Homo sapiens: one gene and its partners. The protein of the gene in region 3 interacts with the protein of the main gene of each other region in a pairwise test. Each region holds a gene or a part of one and is shown on either strand. Other genes may lie near its edges. The genes, in order: PEX7, CCT5, PIAS1 and PPT1.

Evidence for each region.
Region 1: the proteins of PIAS1 (region 3) and PEX7 interact in binary tests that used the Homo sapiens proteins (3 or more experiments, as listed by UniProt).
Region 2: the proteins of PIAS1 (region 3) and CCT5 interact in binary tests that used the Homo sapiens proteins (3 or more experiments, as listed by UniProt).
Region 4: the proteins of PIAS1 (region 3) and PPT1 interact in binary tests that used the Homo sapiens proteins (3 or more experiments, as listed by UniProt).

What each region holds. Positions count from the first base shown.
Region 1 is NC_000006.12:136,867,551-136,874,929, forward strand, and holds part of PEX7 (peroxisomal biogenesis factor 7), read left to right. Parts: intron 1-2,339; coding exon 2,340-2,453; intron 2,454-4,647; coding exon 4,648-4,703; intron 4,704-7,379. UniProt on the Homo sapiens protein: Receptor required for the peroxisomal import of proteins containing a C-terminal PTS2-type peroxisomal targeting signal. Specifically binds to cargo proteins containing a PTS2 peroxisomal targeting signal in the cytosol.
Region 2 is NC_000005.10:10,252,942-10,260,320, reverse strand, and holds part of CCT5 (T-complex protein 1 subunit epsilon), read right to left. Parts: intron 6,177-7,379; coding exon 6,116-6,176; intron 5,648-6,115; coding exon 5,483-5,647; intron 4,367-5,482; coding exon 4,168-4,366; intron 2,211-4,167; coding exon 2,018-2,210; intron 1,936-2,017; coding exon 1,786-1,935; intron 1-1,785. UniProt on the Homo sapiens protein: Component of the chaperonin-containing T-complex (TRiC), a molecular chaperone complex that assists the folding of actin, tubulin and other proteins upon ATP hydrolysis.
Region 3 is NC_000015.10:68,084,936-68,092,314, reverse strand, and holds part of PIAS1 (E3 SUMO-protein ligase PIAS1), read right to left. Parts: intron 6,010-7,379; coding exon 5,565-6,009; intron 4,471-5,564; exon of another isoform or gene 4,425-4,470; intron 1-4,424. UniProt on the Homo sapiens protein: Functions as an E3-type small ubiquitin-like modifier (SUMO) ligase, stabilizing the interaction between UBE2I and the substrate, and as a SUMO-tethering factor. Catalyzes sumoylation of various proteins, such as CEBPB, MRE11, MTA1, PTK2 and PML.
Region 4 is NC_000001.11:40,094,251-40,101,980, reverse strand, and holds the start of PPT1 (palmitoyl-protein thioesterase 1 isoform 1 precursor), read left to right. Parts: upstream 1-4,728; 5' UTR 4,729-4,742; coding exon 4,743-4,866; intron 4,867-7,730. UniProt on the Homo sapiens protein: Has thioesterase activity against fatty acid thioesters with 14 -18 carbons, including palmitoyl-CoA, S-palmitoyl-N-acetylcysteamine, and palmitoylated proteins. In contrast to PPT2, PPT1 can hydrolyze palmitoylated proteins and palmitoylcysteine.

The DNA of each region.
Region 1 (7,379 bases), on a different chromosome or scaffold from region 3:
GAAAGAAAATATTTTTGTATAGCTCTACAATGTGTTTATATTTTAAGTTTTGTTATTATGAAGAGTCAAAAAGTAAAAAAAGCCAGGCATGGTGGCAGGCGCCTGTAGTCCCAGCTACTCGGGAGGCTGAGGCAGGGGAATCGCTTGAACTGGGAGGCAGAGGCTGCAGTGAGCCAAGATCACGCCACTGCACTCCAGCCTGGCAACAGAGCAAGACTCCATCTCAAAACAACAACAACAACAACAACAAAAAACTTTAAAAAAAATTAGAAAGTTTATGAAGCAAAAAATTACAGTGAGCTAAGGTTAATTTATTATTGAAGAAAGGAAATAAAAAATAAATTTAGTGTACAGTAATGTTCTAGGCCTTTCCATTCACTCACTACTCATTCACTCACTGACTCACCCAGAGTAATTTCCAGTTTTGTAAGCTCCATTCATGGTAAGGACCCTACTACCATTTTTTATCTTCCATACTATATTTTTACTATACCTTTTCTATGTTTAGATACAGAAAGCCTTACAATTGTGTTACAGTAGCCTACAGTATTCAGTACAGTAACATGCTGGACAGGCATGTAGCCTAGGAGCAATAGGCTGTTTCATCTAGCCTGGGTGTGTACTAGGCTGTACCACCTAGGTTTGTGTAAGTACACTCTGTGATGTTCACGCAAAGATGAAATTGCCTAATGCCACATTTCTGAGAGCATATCCCCATCATTAAGTGATGCATGACTGTATTTATGTCCCTGAAGTGGTCTGTTGACCGTGACAAATAGGTAAAATGTATGCTTTGTTTTTTTCCCAGTTTTAAATTAATTAAAGTTAAAAGAACATTGTATTGGCAGAGTTCTTTAAATAAAAATAAGTAAAATAAGTTAAAATATAGTATATATACAATGATATTACTCAATCTAAACATTTCAATGCTGATGACTATAGTTTCAAACTCATAAATGAATGTTTCATATTGGAAAATTAATTATGGCCTGTATGTTAGATGTTTGGGAACTCTAAAGAAAGATGCTGATAGACATTTGAGAGTGATTTACAAAAATTATTTTCTAATAACTGAAACTTTTCTTCAAATTAGCTTAAACTAAAGCCCAACATAGTCAGACAATGTTAGGTTGGTGCAAGAGTAGTTGCAGTTTTTGCCATTACTTTCAATGGCAAAAACTGCAACTACTTTTGCGCCAACTTAAATCCATTGCTGTTCTGAGTTATGTGGGGTGGACTGAGTGTGGACCCAGCACTTGTCCTATTCAGCCAGGACCTCTGGGTTCACTTGGGGCTCTAGATAGCAGAATTTGTAAAGCCGGAATAGATAAGAGACTCACCACTATTTGATTACATTCTTGGATATGATTAGATATCGTATTAAGAATTTTGGTCCAAGAGAGTTGGAAACAATGATTAATTTAGATTTAGAGAACATGGAAAAATTTAATTCATAGCCTTTGCTTTTTCAGATGTGCCTAAATGAACAGACCTCTTGCCTTTTAATGCCTGGAAAAACCTCAGAGTATGTTGAAACCCTTTTTGTTTGTTTGTTTTTTAGAGATGAGGTCTCACTGTTGCCCAGGCTGGTCTCAAACTCCTGGGCTCAAGTGATCCACCGGCCTTGGCCTCCCAAAGTGCTGGGATTATAGGAGTGAACCACCGCACCCAGCCTTGAAAACCTTTTTTAAATTTTTATTTTTTTTTTAGAGACAGGGTCTCGCTGTGTCATCCAGGCTGAGGTACAGTGGGGTGATCATACCACACTGTAGCCTCTGACTCTTGGGCTCACACAATCCTCCTGCCTCACTCAGCCTCTCAAGTAGCTAAAATTACAGGTGTGTGTTACCACGCCTGGCTAATTTTTTGGGTAGACAGGGTCTTGCTTTATTGTCCATGCTGGTCTCAAGTTCCTGGCCTCAAGTGATCCTCCCACCTTTGCCTCCCAAGGTGCTGGAATTCCAGGGAAAACCTTTTGAAGAGAAAGCTGGGCTCATTTGTCAGATAAAATTTTTAATCCCCTATGTATTTACTGCCGCTTCTAAAGCTGAATTAGAAAATCCACAATGCTGTTTGGAACTATGCCTTTTCCAGCTGTCTGTAGTGTTCCATCGTGTACATAAAGCATATTGAGTTCTTTTTCTCACAAGTCATATTAGTTTTTTGCTATTAATGTCTATGTTGATTCCTGTCTATACTTGTTATACAACTTCTCAAAAATGACTCCTTGGTTCATATTAAATAGTTATCAGAAAGCAGATGTTGTTTCTAGTAGGAAAGCCTGCATACTGTTTAATTGCAAAGATGTCACAGTTTATGTTTCTCTGAATTGTTTTTAGAATTTGCTGGTGACCGGGGCGGTTGACTGTAGTTTGAGAGGCTGGGACTTAAGGAATGTACGACAACCAGTGTTTGAACTTCTTGGTCATACCTATGCTATTAGGAGGGTGAAAGTAAGTTTTCATCTTTTCTTTTATATGTAGAATAAAATTATATAAATATAATCAATGAAGTGTATATTAAAAAGTGTTCTGGGTTTAGGGATTGGAGTTACTAATTCTTTTTTATATGTGTTTTTGTTACCCAATTAATTAGTAGTGAAAGCTAAAATTAGGCAAAAATATTTGAATAATGATTGAATGAATTTGGGCAATGTAGACATTCAATACTTAAGGTTAAATAAAAATCTTTTTCTCATTCTTTCACCTCCAATCTGTTTTTCCTTTAATATATTTTTTTAACTATAGTAATTCACTTTTAGTATTATGTTCTTTATAAGTTTCTAATTAGCGAGAGTCTCTACTTTGTTGAAACAGATGTAAAGAGATGGTTAATTCTTTCTTTTTCCTAACATGATAACATACATGACTGTTCACAGATGTTTGGGATATAGAAAGTTTTCTACTCTGTGAACAGCAGAGGATGAGGTAAATTTTTAATGATGGTCTCAGTAAATTTATCTGGGTTATAAGATGACTTAGGTTGGTTTCCTGGCTTTTATATTTAGGCAGGTTCTGCTAAATGACTGTGGAAAACATCTTATTAAGTGACATCTCCCAATTTCATCCTTTTGTTTTTTTACGTTAAGGATAAAAAAGTACCTTATTGATTATTTTAATAAGGTAATTATGTTATTCCTACTATTTAAAAAATTCTAAATTTTTTTTTCTTTTTTTTTGAGATGGAGTCTTGCCCTGTCACCCAGACACGATCTCAGCTCACTGCAACCTCTGCCTTCTGGGTTCAAGCTGTTCTCCTGCCTCAGCCTACTGAGTAGCTGGGACTACAGGTGTGCACCACCATGCCCGGCTAATTTTTTTGTATTTTTAGTGGAGACAGGGTTTCACAGTGTTGGCCAGGCTGGTCTTGAACTCCTGACCTCAAGTGATCTGCCTGCCTTAGCCTTCCACAGTGCTGGGATTACAGGCTGAGTCACTGTGCCTGGCCAAAAATTCTAAATTTTTAGTTAAGTTAATATTTTAAGTTTCTCTGGCTGCAATGCAACATAGGAGACACAGTGCTCTGTTTTATTTTTTAATAAATTTGTTTAATTGGACAAGTTTTAGCAGTTGAAAAATATGCTCTATGTATATTTTAGAGTGATTATGAGAATGAAATAAGGTAATGTAGTGAAAGTACTTTGCAAACTAAGTGCTGGTCAAATGTAGTTATATATGTGTATTTAACTATTAAAGTGCGATAAGACAAACACTGAAGAAATGTAATTGCAAAGGTCAACTTATTAAGTACATTATTACTCATCTAGAAGACGTTACTTGTCTTTAAACTTGCTTTTTACCCTTGATATAATTTTCCATTAGCTGTAATATACAAATAACGTAAAAATAACTTAAGGGTGTTTTTATTTAACATTTAAATGTTTATTTTGATAACGTGATTATAGCAATCATATATTTGTAAAATTGGTAAATTATATAATTATATATTTGTACTCTTATATACTTAAATCCCTTATATTTGTAAGAATCATTTTTGTTTATTACTTTGTTTGCTTTTGCTTTTTTTGAGCCAGAGTCTCTCTCTGTCGCCGGGGCTGGAGTGCAGTGGCATGATCTCGGCTCACTGCAACCTCCACCTTCTGGGTTAAAGCAATTCACCTGCTTCAGCTTCCCCAGAAGCTGAGATTATAGGCATATGTGCCACCATGCCCATCTAACTTTTGTATTTTTAGTACAGGCGGGGTTTCACCATGTTGGCCAGGCTGGTCTCGAGCTCCTGACCTGAGGTGATCTGCCCTCCTGAGCCTCCCAAGGTGCTGGGATTACAGGTGTGAGCTGCTGCATCTGGCCTGTAAGAATCATTTTTGGATAGCCAATATGAAATTGTATTTAATTTTTCCAGAATAGCAACATTTTGGGAATATTTTATTCTAAATAAGTTCTAAAAAGCTTGAGGGATAATTTTCTTTGGAGAATGTAAAAATATTTTTCCTGAAGATGGATACTTATAAGGCCAGAAGATTTTTGCCTCAAATTATAGCATATATGCTTTGAAAAAGCATAATTTTAAGTGACAGCTCTGACTCAACTTAAATTTATTATAATGTTTATGGAATGATCATAGAAAGCAGTGTTATAATCACAGCTGACTTCAAAAAGGGTTTTTTTTTTCTTTTTTTTTTTGTAGTTTTCACCATTTCATGCTTCTGTGCTGGCCTCTTGCTCGTATGATTTTACTGTAAGGTACAGTGGTTTTTAATACATTTCATTGTGAAATACCAGGTAACATTTGCATCTTTGCAACTTTTATAAGAGATAATATGATTACTCTTACTAACATGAAAATAATCTGAGATGGGTACATTTAAATATTTACTAGGATTAATATTATATTTTTCCTGTTTTCGTGATCCAGTCACATATATGAGTAAATTTTTTCTCTTCAAATATTAGCCTGGCTATTCTGTTTAAAAGCCATCTTTTCTAATAGATGTTCCTATGGTAACACTTTCCTACACTATAGATGGCATAGCCAATATATTCTAAATTTAGATATAGAAATTTGGAAATTGCATTTCTTCAGGTCTAATTATATGAGTCGTAAGGCTAAGATTGCTTAGATGAAAAAACAATGAACATGAGTGTATGATTTTTTGTGAATGTAGATATATGAACATGTATGTGTATATATGTGCATGGATATCTAGATAAGAGTGTGTGTGGGTGTGGGTCTCTATTTATACTTCCAGTTACAGTTCCATACCACAGAGGATTTATTTTCCCTTTCCAAATTTGTAACTCTTGACTTCCATTTTATTCACAATATATTTTCTTATGTGTTAAACCCTGTAATGCTTAGAAAGTAGTTCAGAATTGCAAAGCCATACCTTTGAAAAAAACAATCTTACTAATTAGAGCTCAGCACTTGCTTAGAGTTTTTTTTGTCTTTAGTTTGAATACTATATTCAGAAGTTACTTAGGTTAATTCTCCTCTTCTCTGTTAGAGTGTGGTTATGTTATTCACTTGAAACATGGTTTGATTCCTTTGTTTCTGTTTGTATTCAATTTTAGGGTTTTCCTCCCATCCTTGTTGATTTTGTCTAGGCAAAACATTGACATGGTTTCAAAAGTCAAGATGTACATAAAGATATATTCAGAAAGGTTTCCAGGATTTTCACTAAAATATATCCTGGAAATCATTCTGTATCAAAGAGATCATTCTCATTCTGCATAATACACCATTGTGTGGATGTGCTATAGTTTATTTGGCTACCCTCCTATCTATGGACATTTAGCTTGTTTTCAATGTTTTGTAAATAAACAGTGCCACAGTGAATGATAGCTTTGTGTTACTAGAGAATTAATGTCTGGTATTCCTAGAAGTGGGATTGCTGAGTTAAAAGGTAAACATATGTAGTTTTGTTAGATATTACCAAATTCCCATCCATAAGGAATATGCCAATTTTGATACTCAGTAGCAATGTTTGAGAGTACCTGTTTCTCTGCCTTCTAAAGATCATTGATTCATTAAGGTTTTCCAGATGTATGATCTTATCACCTGCAAATAAAGGTGGTTCTACACCTTCATTTCCAATTCTGATGCCTCTAATTGATTTTTCTTAAAATTCCCTCCACAAATACCACTAATACAGTGCTAAATAGTTTATAGAGAATGTCTGATTCCTGATATGAGTACAAACGCCTTTAGTGTTTCTCTATTAAAAATAAGATTCTGACTTTAATGCAAATTATATATGTTTACTTGTTTGTCATACTAAGAAAGTATGCATGAATTCCTATTTTCTTGAGTTTTTTTAATTAGGAATGGGTCTTAAGTTTTGTTGAAGGCTTTTTTTCCCAGCATTTATGGAGATAATCATGATTTTTCTTCTTAGAGATATGGCTATGATGTATTATATTAATGGATTGAACCAACCTTGCATTCCTGGAGTAAGTCTCTCACGTTCTTTGTGTATCATTTTCTCACCATGGTGTTGAATTGTGTTTGCTAATATTTTATTTAAAGCTTTTGCGTCAATATTCAAAGGTGATATTAGTTGCAGTTTTCTTTCTTTTCTCGTTTTGTTTAATGTGTCTGTGTTTTACTTGCTTCATAAAAAGAATTAAGAAATTTTCCTTTGTTTCCAAAGCTCTGGAACAACTTGTACAGCATTGAGGCTATTTGGTCTTTGAATCCTTTGTAGGATTGCTCTGCAAAACTAGTGGAGCATGGTGCTTTTTGTGGAGTACTTTCTTGATAACTTCATTTCTTTCATGGAAGTGAGTCTGTTTAAACTTTGTATCTCTAACGGGATCAAGTTTGGAAATTGTCCCTTGCTTTTAGGTTTTCAAATTTATTCGTAGAGGTGTCTGTAAAGTGGGTGGACACAGTGGCTCATGCCTGTATTCCCAGCACTTTGGGAGGCCAAGGTGGGCAGATCACCTGAGGTTAAGGGTTCAAGACCAGCCTGGCCAACATGGTGAAACCCTGTCTCTACTAAAAATAGAAAAATTAGCCACGCATGATGGCAGGTGCCTGTAATCCCAGCTACTTGGGAGGCTGAGGTGGAATTGCTTGAACCCAGAAGGCAGAGATTGCAGTGAGCTAAAATCATACCACTGCACTCCAGCCTGGGTGACAGAGTGAGACTTTGCCTCAAAAAAAAAAAAAAAAAAAAGTCTATAAAGGAATGTTGTAGGATTTCTTCTCTTTCATTGGTTGTTTTACTCTTGTTATTTCTGATTTTGTATCTTTAATAAGTTCTTTGAATATCTAGTGGTATGTTTATTTTGTTATTTTTCTTCAGCAGGCAGAATTTTAATTTATCAATTAGAACTACTTTTTTCAGCTGGGTGCAGTAGCTCATGCGTGTAATCCCAGCACTTTGGGAGGCTGAGGCGGGTGGATCACCTGAGGTC
Region 2 (7,379 bases), on a different chromosome or scaffold from region 3:
CACTCACAGAGGCAACCCTGCTTCCAGTAAGAAGCACCCTCACCCCGACCTGCAAATGGCAAAGTCACTTTTCCCAATTAGGAGGGCAACGATCAGGCTGCCCACCCCACCTCTGGTGCTCACCTGGGACTGCCACACCGTGCCCCACAACTCTGGCTTACCTGTCTCCATCAGGCCTCCCAGGCTACCTGCTACTGCCTGGCTCTCCCTCTCTTCCTTCCCTGACCCTCTGGAACTCAGTCCAGAACAGCAGCCTCCTTATACAATCTCTCCGTCACAACCCCGGAAAACCAACCTGCCCCTGCAACCCTCCTCAGATGGCAGCTGCTTTCCCTCTCACATGCTCAGAACAGGAGAGGGTCCTTCTTGCTCCTCAGTCACCTGCAGTGTTCCTCTTTGGGTCCCTGCCTCTCATTCTTTAACATTTTACTATCTAGCCCCATCGTCATTCCCTTCTCATTCTCAGCAACCTGCGCCTCACCAGCACGATCCAGTAACATCCCTGGCCTCTCAATTTATCTGTGGCCCCCCAGCACAGCTGAGGCACCATTCTCATGAAAACTGTCCCACCGGCCCAGATGATGGCCTTTTATTTATAAGCTCCCGCCAGCATGCTTCAATCCCTGAGGCTGGCTCTTCCTTGTACAAGCCAACAATGTTCCTGGCTCAGGAGCATCCCCATCTGTCCTCAGCCTGGAATGCTCCTCCCCCAGGGGCACTGCTCTCACCCTATGTTGGCCTCTCCTTACAGGTCACCTCTCTGACCAGTGTCTGTAATGGAGCTGTACCCACCTTTCTCTTATCTGTGTCTCAAGAGCACGAGCTTGGCTTCATTCCCTGCTGTACCTTTAGTGCCTACAACAGAGCCTGGTATGTCGTAGGCACCAAGAACCGTATCATCAATGAGTACATTCAACAACTTTCCCAAGAACAGACATGAAAATAGTCTCTAGTTGGTTTGCTATGATAAATAATACCCTAACCAACCCACGTTCCTGTCTTCTTGAGTACTGGTGTTTTCAACTCCCAAGGACGCAGCCCCCAAAGAGGAGTTGCTATGTCAGAGAGAAAGCACACCTACGCTAAGGTATTCATGAACCCAAACTAGACTTAACTGAGCAAAGAACTGGGATTACTATGAGTGCATTCTGGTTTAACTCCAGTTACTCATTAACTCTTGCCTAAAAGGTATAGTCAGAAATCTTAAAGGCAAGGTAAGCTAAGTTAAATTTGTCCAGGACGGCAAATATAATATGTACAATTGAAAGCACGGCTTTAGGTAACAGGGTCACTTCTTTCAGGACCCTGAACACACTACCATTTTTTTTGAGACAGAGTCTTGCTCTGTCGCCCAGGCTGGAGTGTAGTGGTGCAAGCTCAGCTCACTGCAACCTCTGCCTCCTGGGTTCAAGCGATTCTCCTGTCTCAGCCTCCTGAGTAGCTAGGACTATAGGTGCCTGCCACCATGCCTGGCTAATTTTTTGTGTTTTTAGTAGAAATGGCGTTTCACCGTGTTAGTCAGATGGTCTCGATGATCTCACGATCTGCCTGCCTTAGCCTCCCAAAGTGCTGGGATTATAGGCATGGCCACTGCACCTGGCCTGAACACGCTACCATTTTAAGACAAAATTAGAATTCTTCCCTGTTTATGCCTTTCTATGCAATTTGGTTTTTTCCTGTGTATGTTTTAGAACTGAAGAAAGACTACACATATTTACTAACCAAACCTAACTAACTGTACCCTTTGGGAGTTTAAATTCCACTGAGGACTCTGGTAAGACTTACTTGTTGAATCATCTCTTCAAATTTCTCCTTTTCGTATTTCTGAAGGGCTTTATAATCTTCGACAGAGGTCACATCCAGCTTATGCTTTGTTTTTGGTTTGGGTGGTTCAAATGGACATGTGAGAATTGCAATCTTCGCATCTTCCACTTTCTATGGGGGAACATAAAGACATTTTAATTGGTGGAATTAAGAGTTAACCAACAGTGCGAAGCTGTGAGATGCAATGGCTCACTTTTGGCATCTGTGGGTGACTGAAATCCTTGTCCACAATCACGCCCTTAATCAGTTTAGTGTCCTCCAGCCTGCCGCCCACTTTGCCTTCTACTTTGATAAGCTCAAAGTCAACGTCTCTCCGCTCCATATCTGCTACAGTGAGGACGGCATTCACAGCAATCTCAGCCATCTGTCGGTGACAACTGTTGACCCTGAGGAAAACACCACAAAACAAACTTCATTGGTTTCACAATTACTGCAACCAAAGCAGGCCACATAACACAATGTTACTCAAAGATATAAATCAAACGATGTTTTGAGTCTTCTAGAGGGGAATGCCATCTCAACCTGCATTTTCAACAGTCTGGGGCAGATTCTTAACCTGTGATCCATGGGCCCTAAAGGGGACTGTATACTTAGATAGGAAAAAATTACATCTTTATTTTCGCTAACTCTGAAATTTACTATTTCCTTCCATTATGAATGTACTCAAGAAACCACTGTAGTCTGGCATGAATTAAGGTCTTCTTAGAATGCAGCACTTTTACAGAATACTGTTACTATTTTACAAGTTCAGAACAGAATGGGAAAGGTAAGTAATCACTCAGGAAGAGTCACTCTTATCTCAATGAAGTGTAGCACTAACCAGGAACTGAAAGGACTGGACAGGGCATTTAAACTTTCCAAGAATTCACCACAACATCCATTATAGATGGAGGGTGTTACCTTTTTGAAAGCTTTGAAACATGTGAATAGACAGTTCAATAAATTAATTTTTGAGCCAAGAAAAACAACTAGGGAAACCTAGCACTTGAAATAATGTCTGAAATCACAGGTTATCTATAAAAGAGAACCATGAAAGTAAACATGTTGTATCTTAAGTAGATGACTTAATACTTGCAAACAGAACAAGGCCAACTTATAAAGCAACAAGAAAACTGATTTGTACACTTCAAGTAATGATGATGTCCTCCTTTCATGAGAAAATAAGTGTTATACTTGTGACAAGAGGCTACCCCTAGGGTACTCACTCTTGCCTAGGGAGCTAGTCTCTGCTGAGATCTGTGGTTAGAGGAGGACAGCAGGCATTGCTGAAGGCTTCTGCTCTAACATAGGCTTTGCTCAGGGGAAAAGGCAACAGAAGCAGACACTTTTCCTGCATTTTCCCTGACTACTCTGAGTTTAGAAGATCCCTCATTCCTTTTTGCTAAAACCACCACAAGCACACAATTGAAAACATCTCTCACTGATTTAATATAATGTAATAAAGCAGCTTACACTGGATTTTTATGTTATATTACGGCAACAGACCTTAAGTCTTTGGCATTGTACATAATCAGCGCACCCCTTGGCTGAGGTTGCTTAGAGTCTCCTGGGAGAAGAGCTGTGTCTTAGTGCCCATAAGACCTGGCAGTAAGCCTGGCAAACGGACATTACACGAACGCTGAAAACACCAGAGACAAGTCGCTTTCAAGACTCTCTTTACTAAATTATAATTTTGGATCGGCAATTTGCTGAATAAAAAGTGGAACCCACCCCCAATGGCTCCCCAGCAAAGAAATTATAGAAAGAAGTGTTAAGAAAATTCACATATCCTCCAGGTAGGACCCTTTCTAGTTGACTTTTTTTTTTTTTTGAGACAGGGTCTCGCTCTGTTGCTCAAGCTGGAGTGCAGTGGCATGATCATGGCTTGCTGCAGCCTCGACCTCTCACCTCAGCCTCTGGAGTTGCTGAAGTGTGTGCTACCATGCCTGGCTAGTTTTTTGTTTTGTAGCGATGGGGTCCCACTACATTGCCCTGGCTGGTCTTCAATTCCTGAGCTCAAGCAAGCTACTGCTTTGGCCTCCTAAAGTGCTGAGATTACAAGTATGAGCCACTGCATCCAGCCTTAGCTGATTTTTAACACAACCTATTCTGCTAAATTAAAATAACTATATTTTGCAAATATTGTCAAGGGGATTTATACCTGAACTTAGAAATTCAGTTCTCAACTTAAATACAAAATGCATCTGTCTACATCTACATTAAAAACAAAGCAAAACCAAGTAATCAAAACAAATAATCAAATCGATACAAATCCACCAGTGGTCATTTTGTGTTGCCTTTAAGAAATGGCAAACAAACTGCCTCCTCTACAAATGGGTAATCATATCATCTACTGAAACGTACACTTTGGAGCCCAGCGTGGTTTTTGCTGTCTGAATCAGGGGTTCGGTGTCCTTTATGTCAACAAGGACGCTATCGCTGATCTTGTCCAGGTGTTCAATAGCAACACGAGCAGCCTGCTCATAGCCATCGGCTATTCTGATTGGGTGAATGCCTCGGTCTAGCAATTGCTCCGCTTCTTCTAACAAGGCACCAGCCAGGACTGCAAATAAGCCAGCAGACAATCAGTTCAGGCAAACAACAAAACTTCACTTTTAGTATAATCAGCACAAGTTAGATGCTATCATGGAAAGAAGCAGCTTCTAGAATTAAGCTGCAAGTCATCTTAGAGGCAGAAGCCCTCTATTTTTAAAAGAAAGCCTCGTTTTAGTTCTAGCGAAGGTCGAATAGGACATGTGTCCCCTTACAGATGAACATTCAACCCTCAGTGATGTGAAGAACGTAACTAAAGAATATAATGTAAAAAGAACATTTTTCTAAGAGGTAAAAAGCTATTATGTTTCCTGGGCCAGGGTCTACTCAGTGAAATTCAGCCTGGTGATGAGACTAAAACGTGTTTATTATTTATTCCCCCCACCCCCATCCTCCTTTCTCCTCATTTTAGGGTCGCAAAGATGAATTTTGTTTAAATCTACAGCTCTCCAAGCGCACCGAGAACAGTGCTTGGCATACAATAGTATCCAATAAATATTTGTTGAATGAATTCAAATTTCATCTGCAGAAAAGGTAACCTTACTGATATTTTGTCTTCAATCTCCCCAACTTTTTAAAGATTTCAAATCTTCAGAAAAAAAAGGTACAATACTAAAACGAATACCAGTTTACTTATTAACATTTTGCCACATTTTCTCTACATGTACATACTGTTTCTGTTCAACTATTTGAGAATTAGTTACAGAAACCATGACATGTCACTCCTAAGTATTTAGGTATACAGCTGAGAAGAAGGGCATTCTCCTACACATCTGCAATATAATGGTCACAGATCACTCAGGAAACTCAGCATTGCAGTACATGATCCAAAATCAAATTCTTCCACGTTTCCCAAACATCCTTTATAGCTTAAAAGACAAGCAAAATCAGTGTCCAATCAATCATTACACATTTCTCCATGCCTAACAATCCCCAGCCCTCTTTCTGTTCTTTTGTAACACTGTCAGTTTTGAAAGTCCGACATTTGTTTTGTAGCATGTTTTCAACTTGGATTTGTCTGTCTCCTCATGCTCTGATTCAGAGACAACAATCTCAGCAGGCATGTTAGCCCTGTGGTCTTAAATGACGTCTCTTAAATGAGAAAGGATGTTTTGTCTTTTCTTACCAACCACTCCTGTGGTTCCATCTCCAATTTCATCATCCTGAGACTTGGACAGTTCCACCATCAGCTTGGCAATCTGATGATCAACATCCATCATGCTTAAGATGGTGGCCCCATCATTAGTTACAGTCACATCTCCATCCTTATCCACCATCATCTTATCAAGCCCTAAAAAACAACGTTTAGTAGGCTTTGCGCAAAAAACTGGCAACCAATATCACAAACTATAAAACAAGACCTCCTGACCCAGCTCTTATCTGTGCAATTTATTATATACAAATAATGCAACATACACAAAATAGTAGCTGCATGAAGGCATTTTTAGATTGGCTAACATAATTGGCAAAACATTATGGAGCATCATTAAGTATAATGTTAATCTCAAAAGACAACTATGATTTGGAAAATGCTAATGAAATGATGTTACATGCTAAAAAAAAAAAAAAAAAGGTCCGACCTAATATTGCACACGATTATAACCATGTTTAAGAAACCTGAAATACACTAAAAAATTTTGGCTGTGTTAAGGAAGTAAGATGCCTCCCCTCAATACTCCACCTTTCTGTAGAGAGGTTTATATTGACAGTTTTATAATTTAAATCTTTTGCTAAAAAACACGGAATGGTGGACTCTTACCATTTGGTCCAAGTGATGTTCTCATTGTATTTGCTACAGCCTTTGCTGCCATTATATGAGACTAATGAAACAAACAGAAAAAGCAAACACTGTTACATATAATTTCAATGGTTAAAAGCACACATCTGATGACTACAAAAATCACTTATGACTTAGTTTCTATTGTCTAGAAGCTTCTACATTTAAGGGGCAACAGACAGGTTTAAGTATTATAACATTTACGACTCCAGTTTTAATAAGCAATTCTTACGTAAAGAAAGAGAACCAAGTGCTTTGTGTTATCTCACTGAATTTTCAACACATTAATGAGACAGATTCTTTTACCAGCCCATTTACAGCTGAGAAGAGGGACAGTATGACTATGACCTTACAGGCGTTGCAAGACCACTGTGCAACACAGTCCTCCCTGAGCATCCATGGGGAATTGGTTCCAGGAGCCACAGTTCTCCCTGAGCATCCATGGGGAACAGGTTCCAGGAGCCCCCGAGGATACCCAAATTCACAGATGCTCAAGTCCCTTGCATCTAGGCTTGTACATCTGCGGGTTCCCCATCTGCAGACAAGGAGGGGCCTGTACTCATGAGAAACAGTCCAACTGTAAACATACAACACCTTACTGTCACACTATGATTTACTGCAGAATTGTAATCTTTTGAGCTGGATGCAGTACTAGAGCCTGCAACCCCCCCTACTTGGGAGGCTGAGGCAGGAGGATTGCTTGAGGCCAGGAGTTTGAGATCAGCCTGGGAAACATGGCGAGACCCCATTACAAAATAAAAAGAAAAACTGCTCTTGCTTTAAAAATCTTCCTCCACCCACCTGAAATCCCAATAATTATATTTATAGATCAAAGTTACTGACTGGCCTTTTTTTTTTTGAGACAGTCTTGCTGTGTCTCAAAAAGGCTGGAGTGCAGTGGCATGATCTCAGCTCACTGCAACCTCCGCCTCCCGGGTTTAAGCGATCCTCCTGCCTCAGCCCCCCAGTAGCTGGGATTACAGGCACGCGCCATGACGCCCTGCTCATTTTTTTTTGTATTTTCAGTAGAGATAGGGTTTTGCCATGTTGGCCAGGCTGGTCTTTAACTCCTGACCTCAGGTGATCCACCTGCCTTGGCTGCCCAAAGTGCCAGGATTACAGGTTTGAGCAACCACGCCCGGCTGAAACTGGCCCTCTTAAGGAAGGTAAGTAGCTGTCAAAGTGATAATAAAAAAGTTACCTGTTTTTTTTTTCACATTTAGCTACCAAATTGAGTAATAGAATT
Region 3 (7,379 bases):
CTGTCGTCCCAGCTACTCAGGAGGCGAGGTGGGAGGATCGCTTGAGCCAGGAAGCGGAGGTTGCAGTGAGCCAAGAATGTGCCACTGCACTCCAGCCTGGGCAATACAGCGAGACCATCTCGGAAAAAAAAAGAAAAAAAATAAGTAACACTCATAGTCAATAATTATTATGCCTCATACCAATCAATGAGAAATCTCTAATCAATAAAGACATATGATGTGAACTTATTCAGATATATTGCCTGAGATATTTAAAAACTTGAAAAGACATCCCCTGAGAAGGTAAAATTTGACTTCAATCTCATATAAAGCAAACAAGATGAGTCACCATACTTTTATATGACTACAGATGGCTCGACTTAACAATTTTCCAACTTCATGGTGGTAAGAAAACAATAGGTATTCAGTAGAAATTACTTCGAGTACCTACACAACCATTCTGTTGGTAACAAAACCATTCTGTTTTTCACTTCAGTACGATATTCAATAAATTACATGAGCTATTCAATACTTAATTATAAAACAGGACTTGTGTTAGATGTTATGTCAGCTAATGTAAGTGTTTTAGACACATTTAAGGTAGGTTAAGCTAACCTATCATGTTTGGTAGGTTAAGTGTATTAAGTGCATTTCTGACTTTGGATATTTTCAATTTATGATGGATTTATTGGGACATAACCAGAGGAGTATCTGTAGTCCAAATGAATGCAAAGCTCTCTGTTCTATACATGTTGGCCTTTGAAATAATTAAAAATATTAAAAATATTTAAAAGCACTATATTAAAAATGTATTTTCTATTTGAAAATTTACCTGAGTCAAGGAAGATATAAATAGCTAAACTAGTAACAAATATAAATCTATTAATAGATTTGTTTATACTTAAGTCTGAATCAAATCAAATACTGTATCCTAAAGAACTATTATTTTATTTACCATGAAAGTATTCTGTGTTTTTGCCATTATGTTCTAACAAAGCCAATTTAAACAATAACTATAAACAATATTATAAACTATTTTGAATGATACAGGTATTATTCTAAACAAAACAATATTAAAGGATTGAGAGGAAATATCAAATAATTATCTTGTCCCTGAATGGACAAGATATTTTAATCCAAAATTATTTTTCCTTTTATTTTCATAATTATGTAAATTTCACACCTCATCAACACCAATATTGGCACACTAAGCAATAAGGTATTTCAAACAAAGTACCCCTTAACACATGTGCTCAACATCCTATCAAGATTAAAATTTTCTTCCATTATTTATATGGATCAATAATACATGCGGCTGCCAGGTTACGTGAGCTAGTGAGGTTCTCCTCTCCTTCAAAATGAAACCAGAAATACACACACACACACACACACACACACACACACACACCCGTAAATGACTAACAAAAAGAATACCACAGAAGTATTTTAAAAGTTTATCTGTAAAGTAAGCAAGTAATTATAATTTCTATGGATTCTACATTAAACATAACATTTTTGTAATTAGGGAAAATTTTTTTTAAATGGAGTATATTAAATTTCAAAGACATCAATTAACCTCAGAGATGACAGGATAGGGCAATAAGAGGAAGAATACCATTCTTCCCTACTCTATTTCCCATCCCTATCATAGCCACTGTTTGTAATTACAGAGTGTGGTATGGCTCAGTTGTGTTTGCAAGGTAAAATGGTTAAAATCCACTGAATTAAAATGAAATAAAAGATTCCATCTACTGCATTAAAACGAGTTGGAGAGCTAATAAATGTTTACTGAACTACCATGTAACAGGTTCATATCTAGCTATTATAGGGATTTATAGATAAATGCCTCAGAAGCCTTATCATTTTGAGGAACAAAACAAAAACATTTAATAAAGGGTAAATTAAATGTTAGGACAGCCTGGGCAACATAATGAGACCTCAACTCTACAAAACATAAAAACAAAAATCAGCCAGGTGTGGTGGTGCATGCCTGTGGTCTCAACTACTTGGGAGGCTGAGTTGGGAAAATTGCATGAGCCAGGGAGGTTAAGGCCACAGCAAACCAAGATCTCGCCGCCACATTCCAGCCTGGATGACAGAGCGAAACCCTGTCTCAAAAAATAATAATAATTATTATTATTATTAAATACAATTTAAGTTGGGTGTGGTGGCTGACGCCTGTAATCCTAGCACTTTGGGAGGCCAAGGTGGGAAGATCACTTGAGTCCAGGAGTTCGAGACCAGCCTGGCTGACATGATGAGACCCTGACTCTACTAAAAATACTAAAATTAGCCAGTCATGGTGGCACGTGTCTGTAGTCTGAGCTACTGGGGAGGCTGAGGTGGCAGAACTGCTTCAGCCGGAAAGACAGAGGTTGCAGTGAGCTGAGATTGTGCCAGTGCACTCCAGCCTGGGCAACAGAGCAAGACCCTGTCTCAAATAATAAAATAAAATAAAATTTAAAAAATAAATGTTATGAGGCCGGGTGCAGTGGCTCACACCTGTAATCCCAGCACTTTGGGAGGCCGAGGTGGGCGGATCAACTGAGGTCAGGAGCTCAAGACCACCCTGGCCAACATGGTGAAACCCTATCTCTACTAAAAATACAAAATTAGTCGGGCATGGTGGCACGTGCCTGTAAGTCTCAGCCACTTGGGAGGATGAAGCATGAAAATCACTTGAACCCAGTGGGGCGGAGGTTGCAGTGAGCCTAGATTGTGCCACTGCACTCCAGCCTGGGCTACAGAATGGGGCTCTGTCTCAAAAAAATAAAAATAAAAAATAAATGTTATGAGAGCATGCAGGGAAAGTGAAATTGATTCTGGCTGGGGAAGAAATGTACAGATGAAAGGAGGACAGCCTAGAAAGATAAATGAAAAAGGTTAAAGAAAAAAAGCATTTGAAATAAGCCTCATAGAAACAAACAGAATTGAGATAATGAGAGGCCAAAGTAAACAATAAATTAAACATCTTACTTTACAACCACCTTTTACTTCACCTCTCAATTCTTACAGTTAATTATGGACAATGAAAAGAATACTTTAATTATGGCTCCAAAATAAAGGCCTTAAAATTATTTTAAATTGTTTTAAAGAAATAACAAAATGATCGTAAGAATGAATGAGAATTACCTAATAAAATGGGAATTATCAGAACTACTGTCTTCCATTTTAGTTAGAAATACAAAACCATGCATAAAAACATTCAGTTTACATTTGAACATCTTAAAATCTGTTTAAATCTAGTGCTTAAGGCCACAATGGAAGGGAAAAAATGAAAAAGTAAATGTGCCTGTCCCATTCTGGACTCAGTGATAGTTGTGATCAACTAGCCAGCTGGTGTTCGAAACTATGTTCTCAAAAACTTGATTTTAAATGTATGTACGTTTAGAAATGAAGAGAATGCTGGAAGCTATTTAATTTTCCAGAAAACGTGGTTTTCTTAGATTTAAAACAAATGAACTACCGGCAAAAATAATCATTTAGGAAACTAAGTTATGTGACAAATGTAGCCACTTCATTTAATGAAGTACAGAAAAAGTCTTAATAATGTTAAAGAATTTATAAAAACAGAGCCTTAAAATATACTCATCCTACACCCTGAAGACTAATTACATAAAATCTTTTTTCAATAAATATTTTTCACATTCAATAAGCATTGCCCTTCAACAAATATTTATTGAGCCAATAAACTTCCACAAATTACTTTGTGGTGAGATCTTTTTATGCATATTAAATTGGTTTGTTTTTAATTCTATAACGATGAGATACTGAAAATCTATTTACATATCACTAAGCAATTCTATACCACCTATTCATTTGGTGACTTTCTGTGAATACATACCACAAACAGCAGATTTATTCATGAAAACTGGCATTCAAATCATACTTCAAATATAGTCAATTATTGCTATTTGTGACATTTATGTTCATAAAATCACCACAAACACTGAATTTGCGAATATATAATCACTGCTACCAGGGGAAGTATAGGGTTAGGTTCCTGCAAGCCCCTGGTCACAACGTTTTCATCAACTGATCAATACATAACACATATGTACACATACATACATGTACACAGACCATATACAGAGATATGGATAGATACAGATATGGCCTTTAATTTAAAATGGGATATATATATATATATATATATATACACACACATAATCAGACAGACAAGAAAAGATGCATATGATATATTATTAAGGGGAAAAAAGGGAAGTTATACAATACTATGTATATGATTCCTTCTGTAAAAAACAAGAAACAATTTGCTTATACTATATATGCATACACACTAAACAGCTAACAAGGAAGGAACTTTGGCAATTCCATTTTTTACAATGAGCATGTGTCAGTTTTATAAGCATACAGTAGATTCTCAAAAAATGTTTTCTTATTATGGCCACTTAAAAAATAAAATAATGTGATACAAAACTCACGTTGTTTGAAAATGACTCCTATAATCTTCGTGTATTCAGATAATTTCTGCTAAATATAATTAAAAACAAACACTTCATATTTCAAAGATAGAATTTCAGTAAACATTTTCAAAATGTTCTCAAAAATTCGCAAAAAATGTTCTCAACACTTGCCAGTCCCCCAAACTGAAATGTTCAATGATCTGTAACAGGGATTCACAAGCTTTTACTATACGGGTAAATATTTTGTGCTTTACAGGCACACATGGTCTCCGTTACACATTCTTTGTTTTTGTTTCTTTCCTTTTTTGTTAATAACTCTTTGGGAATATTTTTCAGATTTCTTAGCTCAGAACCACATAAAAACAGGCCACAGACTGGACTTAGCTTGCCAGCCGTAGTATGCCAACAAACCAGCATTTAGAAGTCTGATATTTTAAATATATTATACCAAAGGCATCAGAGGTCACAACAGTTGAGTTTTATTCTACGTTAAATAAATAAGGTAGCATTATAGCAATTAAAATTACAAGTTGATTAATATATTGAATTCTATATGCTAGACTACAAATCAAATGATGGAACAACACAGTAAAATAAATTTCAAGCACTTATATTATATAACCGTAATCATGAGTGTGCATGTGCATGTGCATGCCTGTAAAGCATGCACTTCTCCACTTGAAAAAAATCAGCTGAAATTTAACTAGCATACATCAAAGCTCAAGTCTCCTTTTATGATCATTAAAACCATTCACTCATTTAAATAATCAAAACTAGTCAGTGATTTGTTTTAGAGATCATCAACCCCTGAAAATTAAGAACTAATCAGAGACTTGTAGTGATTCATTTGGTTTTAATTTAATTTATGAGATATTATAAAATATTAATCAACCTTCTAAAATACTACTCTTTGGAAGTTTATATTCTTGAAACTTTTTAATATTTACTTTGTCAGTAACCATCACTATACTACCTTTTTTCCTGAAAGACAGCTTTTATATATTTGATTTTATCTAAATTTGAAAGATCTTCATTATTATCCAGCTGTTACTATCAAATGAAAATTTCATTATGAATAATAAACTGGGTCAAAGTAAAAGCCTAAAACGAAAATTCATCCTGCAAAAGTAACCAAATACTATCATACAATAATCTTACCTAGACTGGTGGGTTTTATCAGTTCATCCAGTAAATCATAAAATGGTAATTTTTGAAGTTTTATATCCGGATGGACTGGGTGAAGAGCTGATGTAAGATGTGGGAGTTCCAGTTCATGTTTAGGTCCCAGAAGAGAAACAGGGAGTAATGGCGATGATGCAGGGTGACCATCGTAAGTGAGTTGTGGAATGGTAGATGGAGACAAAGTTGCTGGCATAGGACTTGAATGTACGTTGGGGATGGACAAGTCTGCAGGCGTCATGATTTTCTGTGGGAACCGCCGCCTATAGAGTTCCTTAATTTTCATTTGCACAGCAGGACTACAGCCAGCCTTTAGCAAATGCAGGGCTTTTGTGAGAAGTTCGTGTTTGCGTCCGTGCTTGTTTCTCCCGGCGTAGCCCAACAGTACTTGGAGTTCAGAAACTCTAAGGCTCATAACCATTTGCTTAGAGAAAAAACAAAATGTAAAACATTAGTATTCCAATAATATAATTTACACTATTAAATGACACTTTATTATAACCCCCTTCTTATGGTTTACTTAAGCAAATAAAGGCCAGCTCACTTATAATCCTATTATTTCAAACTTCAAATTTAATCATTTAACGTTAAGTAACCAAAGAAATTTAAAATTAATATTCATAAATTCATTGACTTCTACCCTTGGTTATAAGAAATATAGGATAAAGTATACACCAGGGAAAACCACACCTCACTTTATTCCACTGTTTTGATGAAACTGTCAGGTATTTATCAAGCACTTACTGAGTCTCCAGGAGAATGTCGAGTGCTATGTAGATGGCAAAACGTAATGATGTGCTCTCAAGAATATTTTGTTTTCTTGGGGAAGAATTATAAGTATATATGAAACAACAAACAGTCCATCTCAAACACCAGATGTAGGCAGGATATCAATAGCTATTATCAAGTGTTACTTACATTCTGTACTAACTCTGGAATTTGTAGACTTAAGTTACACCTTTTTTGACCAATTATATATCAGATATTCTATTTGATATTTTCACATGGAATGTCATTATCTTTACAACTCCGCAAGGTATTATCCTGCCTGATTTATACATGAGGAGACAAGTTCAGAAAGGTTAGATAACTTATAAAGCCATAAAGCTACTAAGGAGTAGTCAGGATTCAAACCCAGATATGTCTGATTCTAAAGCCCATGCTCTTTCCACTAAACCATTAGGAAAAAGACAGAGCTGGACTCATATTACTGACTCTCACTTAACTTGCAAGGCCAAGCTAGAAGTCCAGCAACCCAATTCATATGCCATAATGCATGAGGCTGCAGTAATCTATTTAACTTTGTTTACCTATGTTCGCAAACTTATTTAGTCCCCCTTTCTCCTTTTTCCCCACCTACTAATAGGAAATGACCATCTATACCAATCCTCCCATTTTAAAGTGGTGGAAAATGGAATCCAAAGAGAAGAAATCACTTACCCAAGATCACACAGCTATTAGCAGAATCCTAAAAGATTGCATCACCACTGACAGGGAGTATTAGGATAAAAAGACACATGTAAGCTTACCATTTGCTCTCTATTTCTCCAACTAATTCCTTCACCTCATACCAAATACACAAAAGCTATGCTTATGCTGCCTTCCCTAACTCACCACCACTCACAATGATAACCCCAGCCAATTCTCTAAGGGTTCTTTGCAGGTGGCAAAACCATTAAGCAAAAAATAAAATACTGAGGAGAAAAGTATATAAAGAGCTTTATAAGCAATATAGCTGGTTAATCAAAGAAATATGAGTCCTTCCTTTACTTCTCTGGCTTGGAAAACTCTTTC
Region 4 (7,730 bases), on a different chromosome or scaffold from region 3:
TTGTTAGAATACCTAAGTTCTGCAATCACTTCTGAGGTTTTGTTAAGTGTCTATTCCAAAGTTCACCCCACTAATGGCTGGTGTAGTCCATTTCCATGGAAAAGATAGCTTCACTTTTTGGAACTTCTCTCAGTTCAGCATGTTTTCCTGAGTCTTCACTGCCATCTTAAAGATTTGGTCTATTCCATACTTCCCATTTCAAGTTTTTCTCCCCAGTAGCCATTTTCAATTTTCCAGAGATGGGAGGGGAAAGAGAAGGAAAGCGTTTACTTTTCTTCTCTCTTGTAATGTATGTGGATATGTTTGTGTTAATTGTCAGGATTTTGTGGATCTAATTGTATGAGTTTTGATGGAATGAAGGCAGAACTGGAAGCCTTGACATGCTCCAGCCCAGAATCTTCTATTTATTTCCTTGACCACCACTTACTGACATTTAAGATACTGACGTTTTTTTGCCGTGGATACAATTTTAACTTTTTAAACTTTCCTAGATATTGGTTGAAACAGAGTCTGTGAGATAGCTTTACTCCATTTTCTTAATCTAGAAGTCTAATAATTTTTAATGTGTGTATATTTTCCATTTTTATTATAAAAATTGTATATCCTTGCTGTAAAATTTCAAACCAAACACAAGTATATAAAGTAAAAAGTGAAAGTTCCTTGTAATACTGCCCTCAAGAATATTACTTTTAACGGTCTCCAGATCTTTTTAAATATTTATTTTCTTTCTTTTTTCTTTCTTTCTTTTTTTTTTTTTTAAGATGGGGTCTCGCTCTGTCGCCCAGGCTGGAGTGCAGTGGCTCGATCTTGGCTCACTGCAAGCTCCGCCTCCCGGGCTCACACCATTCTCCTGCCTCAGCCTCCCGAGTAGCTGGGACTACAGGTGCCTGCCACCACGCCCGGCTAATTTTTTGTATTTTTTAGTAGAGACGGGGTTTCACCGTGTTAGCCAGGATGGTCTCGATCTCCTGACCTCGTGATCCACCCGCCTCAGCCTCCCAAAGTGCTGGGATTACAGGCGTGAGCCACCGCACCCAGCCTCTTTTTTCTTGGCAATGCTTTGACCTTTCAGTGATAATGTACAAATATATAAATACACAGATGTCTTCTTTAAAAAAAGAACAGCTTTATTGAAATATATTCCACATGCCATAAAAGTCACCCATTTTATGTGTACAAACCAATGATTTTTAGTAAATTTATAGAGTTGTACAACCATCATATATGTATGTACATAAATACATAGTTATTTTCTTATGCCCTGTTTAACTTACTCTCCCAGTTCTAAAATGTACTTACCTACTTACCTATGCCCACAGCATGCCCACATGGCTAGAGGCTGCTTTTCAGAACTCTTGGGTAGTTCTGTTCCTGTCAATTGAGCTACTTGCTTACTAAATGCCTTTGGGCTTATTTTATTTATTTATTAATATATCGGTGATATTTGCTATCATAATTTAGTTAAATTTTTGAAAACATGAAATATGAGCATAAAGAGAAAAGAGATGTTTCTGTGAAAACTAAGTTGAATGCATTGGAAAAGCTTGTTAAAGGCAAGTTGTTAAAAAAAATTGTTAAAGTAACTCTGGGTCGGAAATCTGAGAGTGGAAAGTCTTCCATCTAGAATAATTTCACATCCAAACACTGTGGCTCACACCTGTAATCCCAGCACTTTGAGAGGCTGAGGCGGGAGGATCCCTTGAGCCCAGGAGTTCCAGGCTGCAGTAAGCTATGATTGTGTCACTGCAGTCCAACTTGGGGAATAGAGCAAGACCCTGTCGCAAAAAAAAAAAAAAAAAAAAAAAGTCATCATAGCACTATTCATAATAGCAAAGACATGGAATTAACCTAAGTATCCATCAACAGTAGACTGGATAAAGAAAATGTGGTAGGTATACACCATAGCATACTACACAGCCAAAAAAGGAATGAGATAATGTCCTTTGCAGCAACATAGATGGAACTGCTTAGGTCATTATCCTAAGCAAACTAATGCAGGAAAACAAAACCAAATACCACATGTTCTCACTTATAAGTGGGAGCTAAACATTAAGTACAGATGGACACAAAGAAGGGAACAACAGACACTGGGGCCTACATGAGGGTGGAAATGAAAAGTTACCTATTGGGTACTATGTTCATTATGGCAGTGACAAAATAAAACGTACACCCAACCTCCTTGACATACAACTTACCTATATAGCAAACTTGCATATGTGACCCTGAATCAAAAATAAAAAACAAAAAGAATGTTGGTCTGGCACAATGGCTCACAGCTGTGATCCTAGAACTTTGGGAGGCTGAGGGGGGCGGATTGCCTGAGCTCAGGAGTTCGAGACCAGCCTGGGCAACATGGCGAAACCCTGTCTCTACAAAAAACACAAAAAATTAGCGGGGCATGTTGGTGGTGTGTCTGTAATCCCAGCTACTCGGGAGGCAGAGGCACGAGAATCGCTTGAACCCGGGAGGTGGAGGTTACAGTGAGCCAAGATCACGCCACTGCACTCCAGTCTGGGGGACAGAACAAGACCCTGTCTCAAAAAAAAAAAAAAATTGCATTCAGATTGCTTCACAAGTGTCTTTCAGTTATTGCTCCAGTTTAAAGAAACCTTTAAAGAAATTATAAATAGTTCATTAAAGGCAGGAAACTTCATTGAGCGGGCTATATTCACAGAAAAATCCTGAAACTACTTCAATTTGTAAGTCTTAAGTTAAAATAAAATGCTTATACAATAAGCTTATTTTTCTTAAAACAAAACTGTATACTGTACTGTATAATGCTTTATGATTCTGCATTTTTTTTTCTTTGAGACAGAGTTTCACTCTTGTTGCCCAGGCTGGAGTGCAGTAGCTCAATCTTGGCTCACTGCACCCTCTGCCTCCTGGGTTCAAGTGATTCTCCTGTCTCAGCCTCCTGAGTAGCTGGGATTACAGGCACCCACCACCATGCCCGGCTAATTTTTTGTATTTTTAGTAGAGATGGGGTTTCATCATGTTGGCCAGGCTGGTCTCAAACTCCCAACCTCAGGTGATCCACCTGCCTCAGCCTCCCAAAGTGCGCCCAGTGGATTCTGCATTTTAATCGACTTTTCAACTAACAACTTACCTCTAGTCCCAATGGCATGGAATAGAAGAGATTACAGACCGTGGGTTTGTAATCGACTTTTCTTTTACAACATATTAAGGGCATTTTTCATGTCACTTTATGTAAATTTACCTCATTTTTCTTTTTTGAGAGAGACAGGGTCTCACTGTTGCCCAGGGCAACAGCGAGATCATAGCTCAGTGCAATGGCGAGATCATAGCTCAATGCAGCCTTGAACTCCTGGGCTCAAGTGATCCTCCCACCTTAGCCTCCCCAGTAGCTAGGATTACAGGCACATACCACCACCCCTGGCTAATTAAAAAAAAATTTTTTTTTTGTAGAGATGGGGTCTTGCTATGCTGCCTGGGCTGTACTCTCTTTTTATTTATTTTTTATTCTTATTTTTTGAGACAGAGTTTTGCTCTTGTTGCCCAGGCTGGAGTACAATGGTATGATCTCAGCTTACCGCAACCTCTGCCTCCCGGGTTCAAGAGATTCTCCTGCCTCAGCCTCCTGAGTAGCTGGGATTACAAGTATGCGCCACCACACCCGGCTAATTTTGTAATTTTAGTAGAGACGGGATTTCTCCATGTTGGTCAGGCTGGTCTCGAACTCGCTACCTTAGATGATCTGCCCACCTCAGCCTCCCAAAGTGCTGGGATTACAGGAGTGAGCCACCGCGCCCGGCCCTATACTCATTTTTTATAAAACTGGCCTCATATTATTCCATTGTATAGTGGATACACTCTAATTTCTTTATAAATTATTTAAACTATTTTTTGATGTTTTGTTGAAAAAAAACTTGAGCAGGGAACTGATATTATGAAGGTGGATTGAGGGATGAATGTGGCAATAGAGCATAAAATGAATTAAAGAGGAGAGAATGGAAAAGGAAATGGTTGATGAGAGACCCTTGAAATAATCCAGCTGAGATTAGGCCAGTTAGTGGCCATGGGTTTCCCCCTCACTCTTATGCATCCAACATATGCTTTCGTCCGTCTTGAAGTCCCGACATTTCTAGAAAACACAGTTGTCTTTCTCCTCTCTACCTTAGCTCATCTCAGTCCTTCTGAATTTCATCTTTGCTTGTTGAAATCCTACCTCTCCTTCAATATCCAGAACAAACCCCACACCCTGCCATGATTGGTCCTGGCTGGAAACCGTCCCTCCTTCTTTCTTCCTTCCTCTGTGCATGTTTCTTGCAAAGGCAGTACAGGGCAGTGGTGAAGAGCAACGACTTTGGAACCACCAATTTGCTATCTCTGTGACCTTGGGCACCTTACTCAGTGCCAATTCGCAGTGCCTCAGTGTCCTCACCTGTCAGGGGGAGAAGTGCATACAGCATTGTTATGAAGAGTGAATTAGTTAAAGGTTGTAAGAATAGTGCCTGATAGCATCTGATCAGCACTGAATATATGTTAGCAATTATTTTGATTCACCGCAGAGGGCGGTCTACGAGAGCGCAGAGCCCCACTCGGCCAGCGGGGTCTGGCGGGGGACCTGTCGCGCTGAAAGCTCCAGGGTAGGGCCGACGCCCATCAGGCTGGGCATCCGTTCGGGATGCGCAGGTTGCGATCTGCAACCGGCGGCGCCACGCCCAGGCGGGCGGAGCGCGGTTCCCGGAGTCTCGCGCCCGCGGTCATGTGACACAGCGAAGATGGCGTCGCCCGGCTGCCTGTGGCTCTTGGCTGTGGCTCTCCTGCCATGGACCTGCGCTTCTCGGGCGCTGCAGCATCTGGACCCGCCGGCGCCGCTGCCGTTGGTGATCTGGCATGGGATGGGTGAGTGAGTGAGAAATTTAAAAGGGTTTGGCGATTCTCTCTCTTCCTAGCCTGGGTTCGCATCTGCAAAATGCGGGTGTAGAGGGCGAGGACGTGGTCCCACAGCACGCGGCTGCCTCGACATTTTAGGATTTGAAGGATCTGCATTGGAAAGAGAGAAGGGGAAGGAGCCGTCCCCTTCACTGGAAAGAGAGAAGGGGAAGGAAAGAGAGAGCCGCGCACGGCGTTGAAGTTTTACATGCTGTCCTTGATTAATCCTTACAGTAGTGGCGTCAGGATGCAGCATCTCTCACTTGGTCAGGCTAGGTGAGCTGCGGCTGGCTATATGACTGGCGCATCTACCCTTTTATTTATTCCTTCACACATTGAACAGAGATTTGTTAGGCACCTACAGTTCATTTACAAATTGAGTAACCCTTATCTGAAATGCTTGGGACTGGGAAGCATTTCGGATTTTTTTTTTTTTAATATTTGCATATATACAAGAGATCTGGGGGGTGGGACCCAAGTGTAAACAGGAAATTTATTTATTTTTCATATACACCTTATACACATAGCTGGAAGGTAATTTTATGCAATATTTTAAATAATTTTGTGCAACCCATCACATGAGGTCAGGTGTGGAATTTTCCACTTGTGGCATCATGTCTGCGCTGAAAAACTTTCAGATTTTGGGTTTCCCATTTTCAGATTAGGATGCTCAACCTATATTCATTTAACACAGTTATTGAGCACCTACTAGGTGCTGAGGATACAGTAGGGAACTAAACAGACTAAATTCTTTGTTCTTTTGGAACCTACTCTCCAGTAGGAGAAGCAGATTATAAAGAAATTAACAAGTAAAACATAACATATCAAATGGTGATATGTGCAACAGAGAAAAATATAGTAGGGTGTAGGATAAAAACTGGAGGTGGGGGCTTGCACTTTTAATAAAGCAAAGTTGGGAAAGAATTCATTGAAAAAGTGACATCTGAGTACAAAACTGAGGTAGATGAGGACAGTTGCCATTTGGCTGTCTGGTAGAAGGAACAGTAAATGGGAAAGCCCTGATGTGGAAGTATGTCTGGTGTGTTCAAGGGACAGCATTCAGATCAGCGTGGCTGGAAATGAGTAAGCAAGGGGAAGAAGTTAGGAGTTTAGTTTGGAAGGGAGGGGCAGGTACAGAAGTTATTGGGCCTAGTAAGACTAATGCAGGGACTTTGGCTAGAGTGTCATGGGGAACTTTTTGAGCAGATGAGTGACATGATCTGACACATTTTTAAAGAATCACTTTAGTTGCTGTATTAAGAATAGATCGTAGGGCGTCATGGATGGTCACAGGGAGACAGGTTAGGAAACTATTGCAATAATTTAAACAAGAGATGATGACTTGGAACTGTAGAGTAACAGTAGAGGTGTTGAGAAGTGGTCAAAGTTTGGATAGATTTTGAAGGTGGATTGCTAACAGATCAGACTTGGAATAAGAGAGAAAGAAAGGAGCCAAAGATGACTCCACAGGTTTTGGCCTGAACAATTGGAAGGGTGAAGTTTTCATTTTACCAAGATGGGGAAGCCTGTAGGACAAGCTGACTTAGGGTGGGGGAAAGATCAAGAGTCTGCTTTTGGGCTTACTAAACTTGAGATCCTCATGAGACACCCAGGAGATGTTGTAGAGGCATTTGGAGTGTGGAGTCTAGGACAGAGATACGGGTTGGAGATTTAAGTAGGGAGTCTTCGGCATACAGCTAGTAGTTAAAGGCTAGGTGAGACCACCTAGGAAATGAGCGTACACAGAGGACTAAGCCCTGAGGCACTCCATTCCATTTGGAGGTGGAGGAAATGAGGAGAAACTAGCAAAGGAGGCTGTAACCAAATAGCCGGTGAAGTGGAGGGGTCAGGAAAGCGCAGTGTCCTTGAAGCCAAGTGAAGAAAATGTTTCAGGAAGAAGGGCATGATCAACTGCATCAAATGTTGATAGGTCATGATCAACTGTATCAAATGTTAATGGGTCAAGGAAGATAAAGGCTGACAACTGATTATTGGATTTAGCAATATAAAGATGATTAATCTTGACAAAAGCAGTTTTGGGAGAGTCGTGATAGTGAGATCTTTATTGGGATGGGTTACAGAAAAATATTCAGAGTAATTAGAGTCAGCAAATACAAACACTTGCAAGGTTCTCCAACAGGCCCTGGGGCTACTACAGTGGGGTCAAAAGAGGACACAGGGTAGGAGCTTTGTGTTTTCCCAGAGCTCACAGTCAGTTACAGGGGAGGCAGAGGCAGTTAAGTAACCTACAATTACAGCTCAGTGTGGAGAACGTTGTTTTCAGAGAAATAAAAGGAATAGACAATTCTCTAGGCAGTAGCCTTTTCTTGTTCTAAAATTGGTGCTTAAGCTTTCTCGCAGGTTGAAAATGGAATAAGTAAGTTCAAAATGGGAAATGATCTCAGTCCACTTCTACTCAGTAGCCAGTTTGCTTCCTGTTCCTAGTTCTAGTTCCCTGAAATAGAAGAAACAAGTCTGGGGCTAGGACAAGATGAAGAGGCTCCTGAAGTGCAAATTTAAGGAGGCACTCACTCTCAAATTCAGGGTCAACACTTACATAAACCTGAGAATGAGTGCCTCCTTAAATTTTGTGCCCTAGAGCGGGGGTCCCAAACTCCCTGGGTCTGTGACCTGTTAGGAACTAGCCACACAGCAGGAGGTGAGTGAGCCTGCAGCCTTACCACCATGAGCTCTACCTCCTGTCAGATCAGCAGTGGCATTAGATTCTCAAAGAGCTCAAATGCTGTTGTGAACTGCGCATGTGAGGGATCTGGATTGGGTGCTCCTTATGAGAATCTAGCAAATGCCTGATGATCTGAGGTGGAACAGTTTTG